Linked DNA regions of Homo sapiens. The protein of the gene in region 4 purifies or fractionates together with the protein of the main gene of each other region. This does not show direct contact. Each region holds a gene or a part of one and is shown on either strand. Other genes may lie near its edges.

The links.
Region 1: the proteins of B3GALNT1 (region 4) and DSG4 purify together in Homo sapiens (affinity purification with mass spectrometry; 3 studies listed by BioGRID and IntAct, with this or other methods). This does not show direct contact.
Region 2: the proteins of B3GALNT1 (region 4) and CST4 purify together in Homo sapiens (affinity purification with mass spectrometry; 3 studies listed by BioGRID and IntAct, with this or other methods). This does not show direct contact.
Region 3: the proteins of B3GALNT1 (region 4) and FUT8 purify together in Homo sapiens (affinity purification with mass spectrometry; 3 studies listed by BioGRID and IntAct, with this or other methods). This does not show direct contact.

Annotation. Positions count from the first base shown.
Region 1 is NC_000018.10:31,411,277-31,414,776, reverse strand, and holds part of DSG4 (desmoglein-4 isoform 2 preproprotein), read right to left. Parts: coding exon 3,329-3,500; intron 1,950-3,328; coding exon 1,182-1,949; 3' UTR 1-1,181.
Region 2 is NC_000020.11:23,686,239-23,690,195, reverse strand, and holds the start of CST4 (cystatin-S precursor), read left to right. Parts: upstream 1-1,157; 5' UTR 1,158-1,226; coding exon 1,227-1,454; intron 1,455-2,994; coding exon 2,995-3,108; intron 3,109-3,957. UniProt on the Homo sapiens protein: This protein strongly inhibits papain and ficin, partially inhibits stem bromelain and bovine cathepsin C, but does not inhibit porcine cathepsin B or clostripain. Papain is inhibited non-competitively.
Region 3 is NC_000014.9:65,720,230-65,723,729, reverse strand, and holds part of FUT8 (alpha-(1,6)-fucosyltransferase), read right to left. Parts: intron 1,956-3,500; coding exon 1,709-1,955; intron 1-1,708. UniProt on the Homo sapiens protein: Catalyzes the addition of fucose in alpha 1-6 linkage to the first GlcNAc residue, next to the peptide chains in N-glycans.
Region 4 is NC_000003.12:161,083,383-161,085,866, forward strand, and holds the end of B3GALNT1 (UDP-GalNAc:beta-1,3-N-acetylgalactosaminyltransferase 1), read right to left. Parts: coding exon 2,377-2,484; 3' UTR 501-2,376; downstream 1-500. UniProt on the Homo sapiens protein: Transfers N-acetylgalactosamine onto globotriaosylceramide. Plays a critical role in preimplantation stage embryonic development.

The DNA of each region.
Region 1 (3,500 bases), on a different chromosome or scaffold from region 4:
AGTCAGCTTTATGCCTACGAAAAGTAAGCAATGTGTTTCCATTTTATTTATTCAACATAAACAGTAGTGTTGCAAAGAGAAACACAACTTGGTAATGGACTTAAGTAGTTGGTTAATTATTGTTGTTAGGAACTTAAAGCCATATCCCAGAGTTTTATTTTAAGTCTAGAAATGAATAGAAGCTCTATGAAGGCAGAAACCATGTCTGTCTTCTTTACCTGTATATTCACAGAGCCAAGACTAGCACCCAACACCTAGTTGCTTCTAAGTAAATATTGTAGAATATATGAATAACTACAGAGTGCTTTTGGAGAATATCTGGTTGCCAATTGAAAGCTCTACGATTCAGGTCAATGAAATTGGTTAAGCCATATTTCATGTATTTTTCTGACATAATTGGCAACAGTAGGGAAAAAATTCCCTGTAAGTGGGGAAAACTCTAATATTTCCCCAATAACTCTTTCTACTTTAGGATTGTCATTTTTTTTTGCTATTCTAGATTAATTTACAGTTAATCATATAAATCAATAAAGTTCAATAAAAATATATATTTTTCTTTGATGAACCATTTCCAGCCATGCTTTCAGTTGGCAAACTCTTTTCTTATTATATTAAGCATCTCCTATTGCTTAATAGCGCATAATATTGAAAAATCTTTTGAAGAGACAAATGACTTCAGATATCTAAAGATATTGACAGATACTCTACGTTCCTTTTCAATTTCCTTTCAGAATGTACATTTCATTCAACTTTTCAATTAAAAATTTTAATATAAATATTTCCCTAACGAAAAATATGGCTGGTGGATGTAGACAGGGCTTCTTTTGTAACTTCCAAGAACAAGGCATCTTGGTTTACAAGATTGGTTCTACAGGCCTCAAGACCCATAGGATTCACAATATGAGTTATGTGCTATTCGTTAGACAGTATCAAGGGATGCAATACATTTTCTGCACATTTTTTGACGCATTATTTAAAATCAGAAAGAATTTTAAAAAGGCTTATCTAAAGTGCCTAGCCATATTCACCCTCAAAATGGTATAATCAAATAATGGCATTGACCTTAGAATATCTGAGTATTTGTTGACTATTAATATATATGGTACATTATATATTTTTGGTGGATGTATTGATGATTACAAGGTGCAAGGTCTCCACATAGAATACTGACCATAAAGCACTTACTGTTGGGTGTAATGTATGTTACTGTATCGTGTTACTCTGTGTCGAGATGTCATGGGGGATGTGGAGCCAACGGTTTGGCCTATGGGAAGGTCTGGACTCATCATTTGCATCACTTGAATTTCTGGCCCTACTAAAATATTGCCGCTCATCACAGGTCCCATACAACCCTCAGTCGTGCTACTATTGCTCATGTCAGGCACACCAGGACTAGCCAGTACTCTCTCAGCATAGATTACATTGTTGTAATCTGCTAACTCAGCAGGTACACAAATATTCCCTTGAATATCATAGACAGGTGCCATTACTGCTTCGGTTACTACAACATTGGGTGCAAGCTGAGGATCAAAAATAATTGTAGTGGGTTGCACACATGGATCAGCATTACCGTAAGTCTCAGTCACAATAATATCCCCATGGACCACGGGTTCAGATGCTGCCATTTCTTCTTGGAATTCAACTTCTGAGGGAGTCAATCCTGAAGATTCATTAACAAAGTAATTAGGTCCGAGCAAAGGGAGGTCAGTACTGATTGGTATACAAGCCTGGTGTGAAGGAAATGGTTCAATTTCTGTGTTTAAGCAGATCTCAGCAAGAGTCCTAAATTTTGGATCTAAAGTTTCCATGCAGCTTTCATCTAAGTCATCCACAATCCAACTGCAACAACCAATAGAGCCTACGGGAGACCCGACTCCCTCGTGGTCATAAATGAGCAAGCAGTCATTGGCTGGTCGACCTTCATCTTCATCTGCATAAGCATACGCTTTCTAAAATTAAAAGGAAATACAGAATTAGAAATTTCTTTTTCCCTAAAATAAGGAAGAATAACAGCAATCCCTCAGAGAGACTTCTGAGTTAAGTTGTTACGGAATAAACTGAATAATGGTATCAATCACTCATTAAAATAATTGATACTATCCATGCACATTCTGTGATAGCATTTGTAACTACCAATTTTAAGATATAGTTTACAATTGCAACAACATCTTCAGCATTTGTTTGGTAAAGAATCATGGTGAAATTCATGTATGAACAGATGGAGAATAAAGCAGGCCGACTGAAATATGAGATAAAATTCTAGTTCTATTTTAGTTCTTTTAAAATGTGTAATAAATTATTGTTAACTATAGCAATCCTGTTGTGCTACCAAATACTAGATCTTCTTCATTCTAACAGTATTTTTGCACCTATTAACCATCCCACTGTTTCCCCTCCCTACTACCCTTGTCAGCCTCTAGTAACCATCATTCTACTCTCTATCTCCATGAGTTCGGTTTTTCCTTTTAGCTTCCACAGATGAGTGAGAACATGTCAAATTAGTCTTTCTGTGCCTGGCATATTTCACTTAACAGTGTCCTCCAGTTCCATCCATGTTGTTGCAAAATGACAAAATTTCATTTTTTATGGCTGAATAATATTCCATTGGGTATATGAATCACATTTTAGAAGTCCAATCATCAGTTGATGGACACAGGTTGATTCCATGTATTGGCTACGTGACTAGTGCTGCAATAAACATGGGGGTGCATATATTTCTTTGATATACTGATTTCCTTTCTTTTGGATATATACCCAGCAGTGCTATTGCTGGACCCCTTTTCGTAGTGAAGGTCAGTTGGTGGATAAGTCACTGGACTGAGAATAGGAGAGCTATCTTCTAGGTCTTAATCTAGCACGAGTTGTGGTGATGCTGCGTTCCTGAGTTTTAACTCCTTTCGTTCCCAATTCTTTTTATTTTCTCTTTTCTGTTGGAGGCTCCGGGAGAACATGAAGGACATCAAAAACAGAGGTCATAAATGCACCTTTTTTCCCCTTGATGAGCATTTTCCTGCTTTGCTACTGCTGTGGGAAACAAGGTGAGGAATCAAGGAAACAAAAGATAGAAAAATGGAAAAGGGAAGTGGAGAATGATGAGGGGTGTGGCCTTGTTCACGGTACTAAGATGCGCTATGGCAGTTGAATATGAAATCCTGTGGCAAATTAGCATTTTGTGTTTTAAGGAGACGTGAAATACTTTTTATTCAGGTTTGGGATAGGGTTGAGAATAACAGCATATTTCCGAAGAGGCCTACTACCATTGTGAGTATTTTACTATTATTATTATTCAATCTCAAGACGATTTTATGTGTGACTGTGAGGGCATTACCTCCGAGAAGTAGCTGTCCAAGAAAGCCATGTTGATGTCTGCGTCAGCGTAGTCCCGCAGGGTTCCCATGGTAGAGCTCCTCTTCCTTGCGGCCCCTGAGGCTCCTGCGGCCCCTGCGGCCATGAGGCCAACGGCTGTCCCCATACCTGTGTTGAGCTCCACTCCCGATACA
Region 2 (3,957 bases), on a different chromosome or scaffold from region 4:
ACTGGCTGTTCCCCGCTGCCTGGGGCTGCTCAACCTCTCCAGTCTCATAGAGACCACCCTGACCAGGGTCCAGTGGTCTCTCTCTAGCCCCTGTTCTATTTCACTTCCAACAGAGTGAGTATAACTCCCTGATCCTAATTGTTGATCGTAACCTACCATCCTCTACACACACTGTGTAGGAATTTACTGTGCAGTTCCACAGCCACCAGCCACATGTGCCACAGGACACTTGAAATGGGGCCAGTCCAAAATGATTCCTGGGCTAAGTGTAAAAAATACACAGGGAATTTCAAAGATTTACAAAACCAAAAAAAAAAAACACACATAAACGATCTCATTAATAATTGTTCCCGTTAGCTGAAATAATATTGTGGCTATATTAGGTTAAATAAATATTTTAAACATTACTTTCACCCATTTATTCTCATCTTTTAAAATGCATCTACTAGAAATTTTCAAATGCTTGTGGGTTCATGTCACATCTCTGTGGGCAGCAGCTCTGCAATGTCACCTCTATGGCTCATCATCCAGGTTCCGTCTTCAAGCCCTAGACCTCCTGGCATGGGCAGTAACTGGTGATAGGTTTGTTTATTGAATAATGAGTTATGAAAACAGAAGCCAGTGACCTTTTCCAAAAAGGTTAATTCCCTTAAATTTGGCAAAGAAATTCTCCATATTAGGGTGTGGACAGGGTCTTCTGGAACCTTCTGAAATAACCTCTCTGTTCCAGAGATTCAGAGACCGTGACCAAGTGCTCCTGGAAGCCTCTGATATCTGAAGACCCCGGGAGGCCAAGCCCTGTATTTTTCCCCTTTCTGAGCAAACAGGAAGTCACATTGCTTTCACAGTCAAAGGACCAGTGTCACCTCTGTGGAGACCTGGGTGACTCAAGCTTGGGAGCACTGGGGAAGAGAGGCATGGCTCAGGGAGGCTGCAGTGAGGACTGGAGTGGGGAGGAGGGGGAGATGGAGGAGGAGGCCTGGGAGGGGCAGGGGGAACTTAGGCAGGGAGGGAGCTTGTAGTGGTGGGGGAGTGAAAAGAGAGATGGAGAAAGAGGGGATGGGCAGAAAGAGGAGGAGGAGTCAGGGGCAGGGCATGGAGGTGGGTGGGGCTGGGCTGCCAAAGCAGGATAAATGCACACCTGCCTGCTGGTCTGGGCTCCCTGCCTCGGGCTCTCACCCTCCTCTCCTGCAGCTCCAGCTTTGTGCTCTGCCTCTGAGGAGACCATGGCCCGGCCTCTGTGTACCCTGCTACTCCTGATGGCTACCCTGGCTGGGGCTCTGGCCTCGAGCTCCAAGGAGGAGAATAGGATAATCCCAGGTGGCATCTATGATGCAGACCTCAATGATGAGTGGGTACAGCGTGCCCTTCACTTCGCCATCAGCGAGTACAACAAGGCCACCGAAGATGAGTACTACAGACGCCCGCTGCAGGTGCTGCGAGCCAGGGAGCAGGTGGGTGCTGCCTCCACCCGAGGGGTCCTGAGCCCTAGCCTGGTTTGTTGCCGGACCCCCAAGAGCATTCCAAGCAAATCAACACTGACACATTCATGATCTAATGCTCAGATTCATTCAGCTTTCTCTGACTCTCCGCTGATGCCCTTCATGCCTAAGCATGCTCCCGGTCCATGCACTGCAGACAGTTAAAGGAAGTGCTGCAGCTTCCTTTAACCTGCAGCAGCTGCTGTGTCTGTACCATGACCGTGGCATTTCCCAGCGTCCAGCAGGTGTGGATGGAGACTGTGCTGACTCTGGGTGGGCTTGATGCTGCTCAGGATGAGATCCAGGCGGTGAGGCTCATTCTCCTCCCTGAGTCCTCTCCTCAGGGGCCACATGGGAACCTGGCTCCCTGTTCTGCAGAGCCCTTCTTCCTTCCCCAAGTCATGCCCTTGGGCACAGCCCCTTAGGGCTAGTGGCCTTCACCCTCAGGCAGGCTGACCCACCCCTGCAGGCCAGGATGGCTGAGTCCCTGCTGGGGTGGAGCACGCCTGGCCCTGCCTCTACGAGCTGATGCAGAGTTAGACCTCAGCCAGATGAGGACAGCAGTCACCCAGCAGAGCAGAGGAGGGGTTAGGTCCAGAGTGAGCTTCAGCAGGGCAACTGGGCCCAGCTTGACCTGCATCCCATGGCAGAGCAGCAAATAGTGACACAGCCTTTAGAGCTCCTCCACCTTCTAGAAATTCAAAGGAATCCAGACCAGTCCCGTTTCTCCTCCTACAGCTGTCAGCTGGAGCCCTCACCCTGCACAGGAGGTGCACTCCCTGGTGCCATGGTCCCCGCTGGCCTGCATCTCCCTCTTAAGCATGACAGTAACTTGGAGTGAAGCACAGGGCATTGCAGACCATCAGACCTGGAAGCCTATTTTATACATGGGTAAACTGATACTCGAGGGATCTCAGCAGTTCCTCCTGGTTCCAAAGAGTCCCTCATCCCAGGTTTCTCCACAGCTCTGCCACGTAGTGTCTGGGAGAGGCCCTGTGCAGGGAAAGGGTTCAATTATAATCTGCAATTGTAAGACACTCAGGTGTGCTGCTGACTTGAGAAACGTATCTTGAACCTCACACTTGAAATGGTGGCATCTGGGCGGCCCCATTGACCCAAAATATCTGTGTGTGTGAAGCATCTCATTTCCTACTCTAAGTGAAGTAATAAATCTAGGTTAAATGGAGGGAATAAGATTTTCGTGAGTTAGCTGAAATTTTGTCATCAGACAGCCTTCCTAGAAAAGAGTCAGTGTTCCCTCACCCCTGAGCCACAGGTAGCAGAATTCAATGAATCCTCTTACCCAGCACAGAGAAAACGATGTTTAAGAGCGGGCATGAGGCTCAGCACCCTGCCAGCTGACAGGAAGAGGGGGCTTGTGTGCCTTGTGTTGACATGTGGGCAGCTCACGAAGCCCCCAAGCAAGTCCAGTGACTCAGCCACAGTGAAGTGCCTGTGAGTGCATGAACTGATGGGGGCGCTGTCCGTGCTTCCTGTTTTCTCCTGTGTGCAGACCTTTGGGGGGGTGAATTACTTCTTCGACGTAGAGGTGGGCCGCACCATATGTACCAAGTCCCAGCCCAACTTGGACACCTGTGCCTTCCATGAACAGCCAGAACTGCAGAAGGTACGTTCCTGATGCGGGTCCCGGGCCAGTCATGCACTGCAGAGGGGTGCGTATGTGTCAGCCTCTGTCCTACCCATGTTTGGACGGTGTGTGTGTGCAGGTGGGTATGTGGGGAGCCGTGTATGCATGGATGTGTACGTGTTCATGTACTTATGGGGGGGTGTGCATGTAGGTGTGCATGTGGAAAGGTGCACGTGTGTACACACATGTGCCAGTGTGTGCGGGTAGGTGTATGGAAGCATGTGTGCCTGTGTGTGGGTGTGTGGCGGAAGTATGGGGGTTTGTACATAGATCCATGGGGATGAGGGGTCCAAGTGAGTTTACGTAGTTGCCTATGTGTGTGCAGATGGGGTGGTGAGGGAGGGGGTGATGTGTTTGATTTGCTAGGAAGGCTTTAGCTTGGGAATGGTTACTAGAAGGTCAACTGCCTGCTTTGGGGTGTTGCCTGTTGGACAGGAAGAATCACCTGCGGGGCTGGGTGCTGGGCAGGGAGAAGGGGATCTGTCTAATCCCAGCCTCAGGCACCTGCATGCAGCCAAAGCCACAATCAGATTAGTGGGACCTAGAGGCCTGTTAGCTGGGAAGCCCTGGACCTGCCCGGCTCACCCAACACCAGCCTCTCCAAGAACCTGCTGGTTCTTGTGAGGTCTCCACTCAGGGGAGAGCGGCACTCCCCTTGTTGCCCTTGACCCATGCCCCAGCTCTTTGAGGGGGAGTTGCCCTGCCCTGGGTTCTTCCCTCTGGCCCCTCTTAGTGCTGGCCTGGGTGCTGGAGGTGGAAGGAGCTGGGGGAACTGAGCCACCTCCCCATGTCCTGCACCCTTGGGGCTCCCGAGGCCTTGCCCAGGCT
Region 3 (3,500 bases), on a different chromosome or scaffold from region 4:
TTGTAAAGTTCTGATACCAAGGGTTTTCCTCTTTATTTTACCCTGGAGAGTCACCATAACTGCCAGCTTGTAGAACTTAAAAGTTGTCCCAGGAAAACATAGACCTGGATAAACTTTTACAGCACCGTTAAGACCAGCAAACCTTTTAACGGTTTTTACTATTTTAGGTAAATGAAACCGATTCCAGCCCTTCTGTTGTGGGCATAATGCATTTCCTTTCTCTGTTTTTCACCATATCAAATGACAGCAGATATTAATTTCACCTGTCATATTTAAGAAAAGCCCCAAAATTGTAAAATTGGGGACACAGATTCACACTTCCCTGTACTGAATAAGGCACTGACTTCCACAGTTTTCTCCTCTCTCCTCCCATCTTAGTGTTTCCAAAGTAATTTTTTTTTTTTTAAGACAAGGTCTTGCTCTGTTGCACACATTGGAGTGCAGTGGCGTGATTATGGTTCACTCCAATCTCTGCCTCCCAGGCTCAAGTGATCCTCTCACCTCAGCCTCCCGAACAGCTGGTACTACAGGCATGTGTCACCAAGCCTGGCTAATTTTTGCTTTTTTTTTTTTTTTTAATTGATGGGGTTTCAACCATGTTGCCTATGTTGAGTTTTCTCAAACTTCTGGGCTCAAGTGATCCACTTGCCTCAGCCTCCCAGTGTTGTGATTACAGGCATGAGCCACTATGCCTGGCCCCAAAGCAATATTAATGGAAATAAAAATAACAGTTTATTTTCATAAATTAAAACACCCTCCTTAAATCTTGCCTTCCCCTCCCCCCAAATTACTAAATCACTATTTATATGTAGAAAAAGGTAGACTTATACGCCTTTAGGTCACAGTATATGGGCCAAACTTAAGGCCAGTTTTTTATTATGAATCTGGAGTGAAGGTTTGATTTCACCAGAGTTACTCTGCCATCTTCACGGCTATTCTTTGCTTTGCATTCCAGACTATAACCCAGATGTGGATACAATCATATGAACATCTATTCTATCATCTTTCCTTCCCACATCCTTCATAATCACTCTTTTTCTGGGGAAATTGGAATTGTTCAGTGGGCTCTATAGAGATGAAGTGGGCAGAACGAATGATTCCATTGAATTTCAATCAAAAGTTACATGAGAAGAAATACGATTTGATATTCTGACTTCACATGTACCTTCTTTACGTCTAACACTTAGAATGGGGTCAATAACTCCTCTACATATGAAGACTAAGACACAAGGAAAGATGTGGGGTGGGAAATATGAAAATAAAAATAAAAAGAAGCTGGACATGGTGATACATGCCTTTAGACCCAGCTATTATACTTGGGAGGCTGAGGTAGGAGGATCACTTGAGCCCAGGGTGGTTGAGGCTGCAGTGAGCCACTACACTTCAGCCTGGGTGACAGAGTGAGACCCTATCTCAAAAATAACAACAACAAAAGCCAAAAGAGAGCTGTGATAAGAGGAGAAAGAAGCAAAGGAAGAGGAGAACTGGAGACAGTAATAGAGCACTACTAAGCAACTTTCTTAGCTGTTCTAAGTAAACAAACAAAAAAAAATAGTCTCCATGTGACCTTAGGATAGCTCTAGAACCTCTGTCCTTTGGTGGGACTATAAAAATTGAACTACATATTGTAAAATTCACAATATATTGTAAAGATACATAACCCTAACTACTACATATCACAGTTTGAGGGAAAAAATCAGATTCTTACCCAATAACTGGATGTTTGAAGCCAAGCTTCTTGGTGGCTTCTTCTATTTCTTTTTCTAGCCAAGGCTGTGGGCGGATCAAGTATTTGACAAACTGAGACACCCACCACACTGCAGGGTCACCATGCACTCGTACAAGTCGATCTGCGAGGTCTTCTGGTACAGCCAAGGGTAAATATGGAGGACGGGGATGAAGACTGTCTACAATGGGAAGCTCGACCACTTGAACATTTTTGTCCTTCACTTCACCTGACAATATTGAAACATATAATCATTACCACATGGTATTCCTTATACATCCACCATTCAACAAGAACTTATTCTGAGTGCTTTCATCCTCACAGCAACTCTAAAGAAGTATAATCTTCACTTTACAAAGGAAGTTAAATAACTTGCTCGAAATACCAGAGCAAAAGTGACGGAGGTGAATTTCACATGCAGGTTAGTCTATCTCTCAAGTCTCTGGTCTTTTCTAAAAGTTTCTATCATAACATGCTATCATACCAACACCTCATGGTATGCAGAACTCAAAGTATCTAATCAAAGAATGACAGTAGACACAGCCAGCTAGCAAAGTTCTATTTTTTGTTGTTGTTTTGGAATTAGAAAATAAAGTGTTCTCGAAACTTCTAGCTTTTCATTACAGCAAAATTGCTCTTGCATTACTTTCATGACAGAACACAATGACTCTGGAAACACCTGAAGATTATAATTATAAGCCAATCATCTACATCTTTTAAAGAAAAAAATTAGATAATTCTAAAATCTTTTTTTTTTTTAATCTATTGGAGGGAGATGAAGCAAGATGGCTGAATAGAAGCCTCAACCAATCGCTGCCCCCACCACAGGAACACCAAATTTAACAACTATCTACACAAAAAAGCACCTTCACAAGAACCAAAAATCAGGTAAGTGATCACAGTACCTGATTTTAACTTCATATTGCTGAAAGAGACACTGAAGAGAGTAGGAAAGACAGTTTTCGATTGTCTACTACCCCTTCCACCCCCATGCAGTGGCCGTGTGGTGCAAAGAATCTGTGTGCTTGGGGGAGGGGGAGCACAGTGATTGTGGGACTTTGCACTGGAACTCAGTGTTACCATGTCACAGCAGAAAGCAACACCAGGCCAACTGGCAAGCAACACCCGGGCCATTAGCAAAGAACTCAGCCAATGCCCATGGAGGGAGAACTTAGATGTGCCCTAGCCAGAGGGGAAATGTCCATCCCAGCGGTTGGAGCCTGAGTTTCAACAAGCCGCACCACTATAGGCTGAAGTGTCCTGGGGCCCTAAATGAACTTGAAAGGCAGTCTAGGCCACAAGAACTGTAATTTCTAGGCAAGTTTTAGTGCTGTGCTGGGTTCGAGAGTCATTGGACCTAGGGGGCACGTAACCTAGTGAGCCACCAGCTGAGGTGGCTAAGGCAGTGCTTATGCCACCCTTTCCCTAATCTAAGGCAGTGCAGTTCACAGCTCCAAAAGAGACTCCTTCCTTCCACTTGAGCAGTAGAGAGGGAAGAGTAAAGAGGACTTTATCTTGCAACTTGGATAACAGCTCAGCCACAGTGGAACAGAGCACCAAGTGGGCTCTTGGGGTTCCTGATTCCAGACCTTGGCTCTTGTATGGCACTCCTGGACCTGCCTGGGCCAGAAGGGAGCCCAGTGCCCTGAAGGGCAAGTCCCAGGCCTGGCAACATTCACCACAAGCTGACTGAAGAGCCCTTGGGCCTTAAGTGAACATGAACCGTAGCCTGGCAATAATCCCTGTGGGCTTGTAGTGGTGGTGGCCATAGGGA
Region 4 (2,484 bases):
CTACTGTAGACTTTACAAACATGGCACATTTAAAGTAGGCCACACTAAATTCATTTAACAATTTTCTTTCTTCAGTAATTAACCTTAACTCACCGTAACTTAACTTTACAAACTTTCAAACTTTGACTCTTTTGTCAAAGTTTTTTGACACTTAGCTTAAATTTAAAACACAAACATCTTGTAAAACTGCACAAAAATATCTTTATATCCTTATTCTGTAAGTTTTTTCCTATTTTAAACTTTATTTTTCTACTTTTTAAACTTTGTTAAAAACTTAAGACACAAACACACACATTAGCCTAGGCCCACAGGGTCAGGATCATCAGTATCACTGTCTTCTATCACCACATCTTGTCTCACTGGAAGGTCTTCAGGAGAAATAGCATGAATGGAGCTGTCATCTCCTATGATAACAATGCTTTCTTCTGGAATACCTCCTGAAGGACCTGCCCAAGGCTCTATTAAACATTTTTTTAATAAGTAGGAATAGAACACTCTAATTATAAAAAGTAAATACACAAACCGGTGTCATTTATTGTCATTATCAGTATTACATACTGTACATAACTGAATGTGCTGTACTTTTATACAACTGGCAGTGTAGTAGGTTTGTTTACACCAGCATCTCCACAGACACGTGAGTAATGCACTAGGCTATGACATTAAAACGGCTAAAACATCATGAGGCAATAGATTTTCTGCTCCATTATAATTTTATGGGACCACTATTGTATATGTCATTATGCAGTACATAACTGTAATCTTCTGCAAAACCAGTCAAATCTAACCATGCCACAAAAATAACTACCACCATCTGTCTTAAAGAACGTGACTCCTATATGGATGGAGATTAACAAGGGCATAGATCGATTCTATAGAATATTTCATTTAATTGATTTTATTATAACTGGATTAGGTCTGAGCCCTGGGAAACAGACATCACCTTGTTATACAGAATCACACATTATAGTTTTAACTGAAGTTGTTTTTCATATAGGACAATCATAAATATGAGTATTACAAGAGCTGACTACATACTTTCAAGTTTATATTTCCTGACAAAGGATATGACCTTTTTCCATCCTGTAATTCAGAGAAAAAGAACCACTTGCCCTATATAAACTCTAAAAAGAAAACTGCATAAACCCAGGAACAGGGGGCAAGGAGTGCTCCCCTTTGACCTACTATTAGCAGGTCCAACAAATGATATATCACCACGTCTATGAAGAAATTTCTTTCTATAAAAGCACAAAATTTAAATCGGATTTGACTTTACATATTAGGGCTTTCATCTTGATGAGAAACTCATAACAGCAGCAGCTCAAACTGATTGTTAAAAGGAAAAAACACAGGGCAGATTAATAATGCAACTTGGATCTTCACTCTTCTCTTTCCAATTCAAATGCTGGAATATGACACTCTTTTTATAATATTCTGCCCATGAGGTTCTCTCCCTTCTTTTCTGCCTTCAGAGTCCTTTCCAAAAGGAAATTACTGCCTTGCATTCTACATTATTCCTAATTTCCAGGTGGAAAAATGAGACAAATTAAGTGACTTCTAAAAACACTAGGAACTGTATTTTTTAAAAACAAGACAATACTTCAGATTTTCTTGCTTTAATTCTTCTCTATATTACCACAGTAAAATATTTAACAAAGTCCAAGAGATTACTGATATGCAATAATGACCTATGACTTTACATTAATGGAGTGATGTATCAATAATAAACTGATCAGTTAAGTAACTGGAAAATGTTTGCATGTAAAGAATGATTCACTATCCTTTTTATCTTGTATTGAAATCGTCAAAACATTTAAAAACACAAAGTTGAAGTAATTTTAAATAATAATAACTGTGAAATACTGCAACATCTTGAAGTACTTTATAAATGACCAAAAACAGGTAAAATTTTGTTCAGTATAACTTCAGTGAAGAAGTTTTTTGACACAGAACTACATATATTTTTAAATTGGTAATCCACATAAGATATACACAAAACCTTCAAGTGACTACATTGTTCAATAAATAAAACTCTACATTGTTTTGTTTTTACAGCCTAGTGAGCTTATAACTCAGTAACACCCTTTTAAGAAATTCTAGTCTACAGAATGACATGTCCAAATTGTTTGGTCCTATTAATTTCTTTAGCAAAAACCTCCAATTCCTTTATATTTAATTCCTCCACATATCATCTTTGAAGGGCCTGACTAATAAATCACAAGTGTAACCCTCCAGTCTCCAGTCTGGGTTTTTCATGAGTTTCAGTTCAGTGTAAGCCAGCACACTGACCTCCCCATGAATTTTCCACAGTACCTACTTTATTTAACACTTTCCACAAAGTATCCTGTCCTTCTAGGCTTTTTGTAGAATGTGAAGTTAATAATGGCATGTGGTGTTCCTTAGCATGACCTGCCAAAAAGTGATGATCTCCTTGGAAGAAAAGCCATGGGCTGCAATCACACGTCTCAGTTGACAGACATCCAA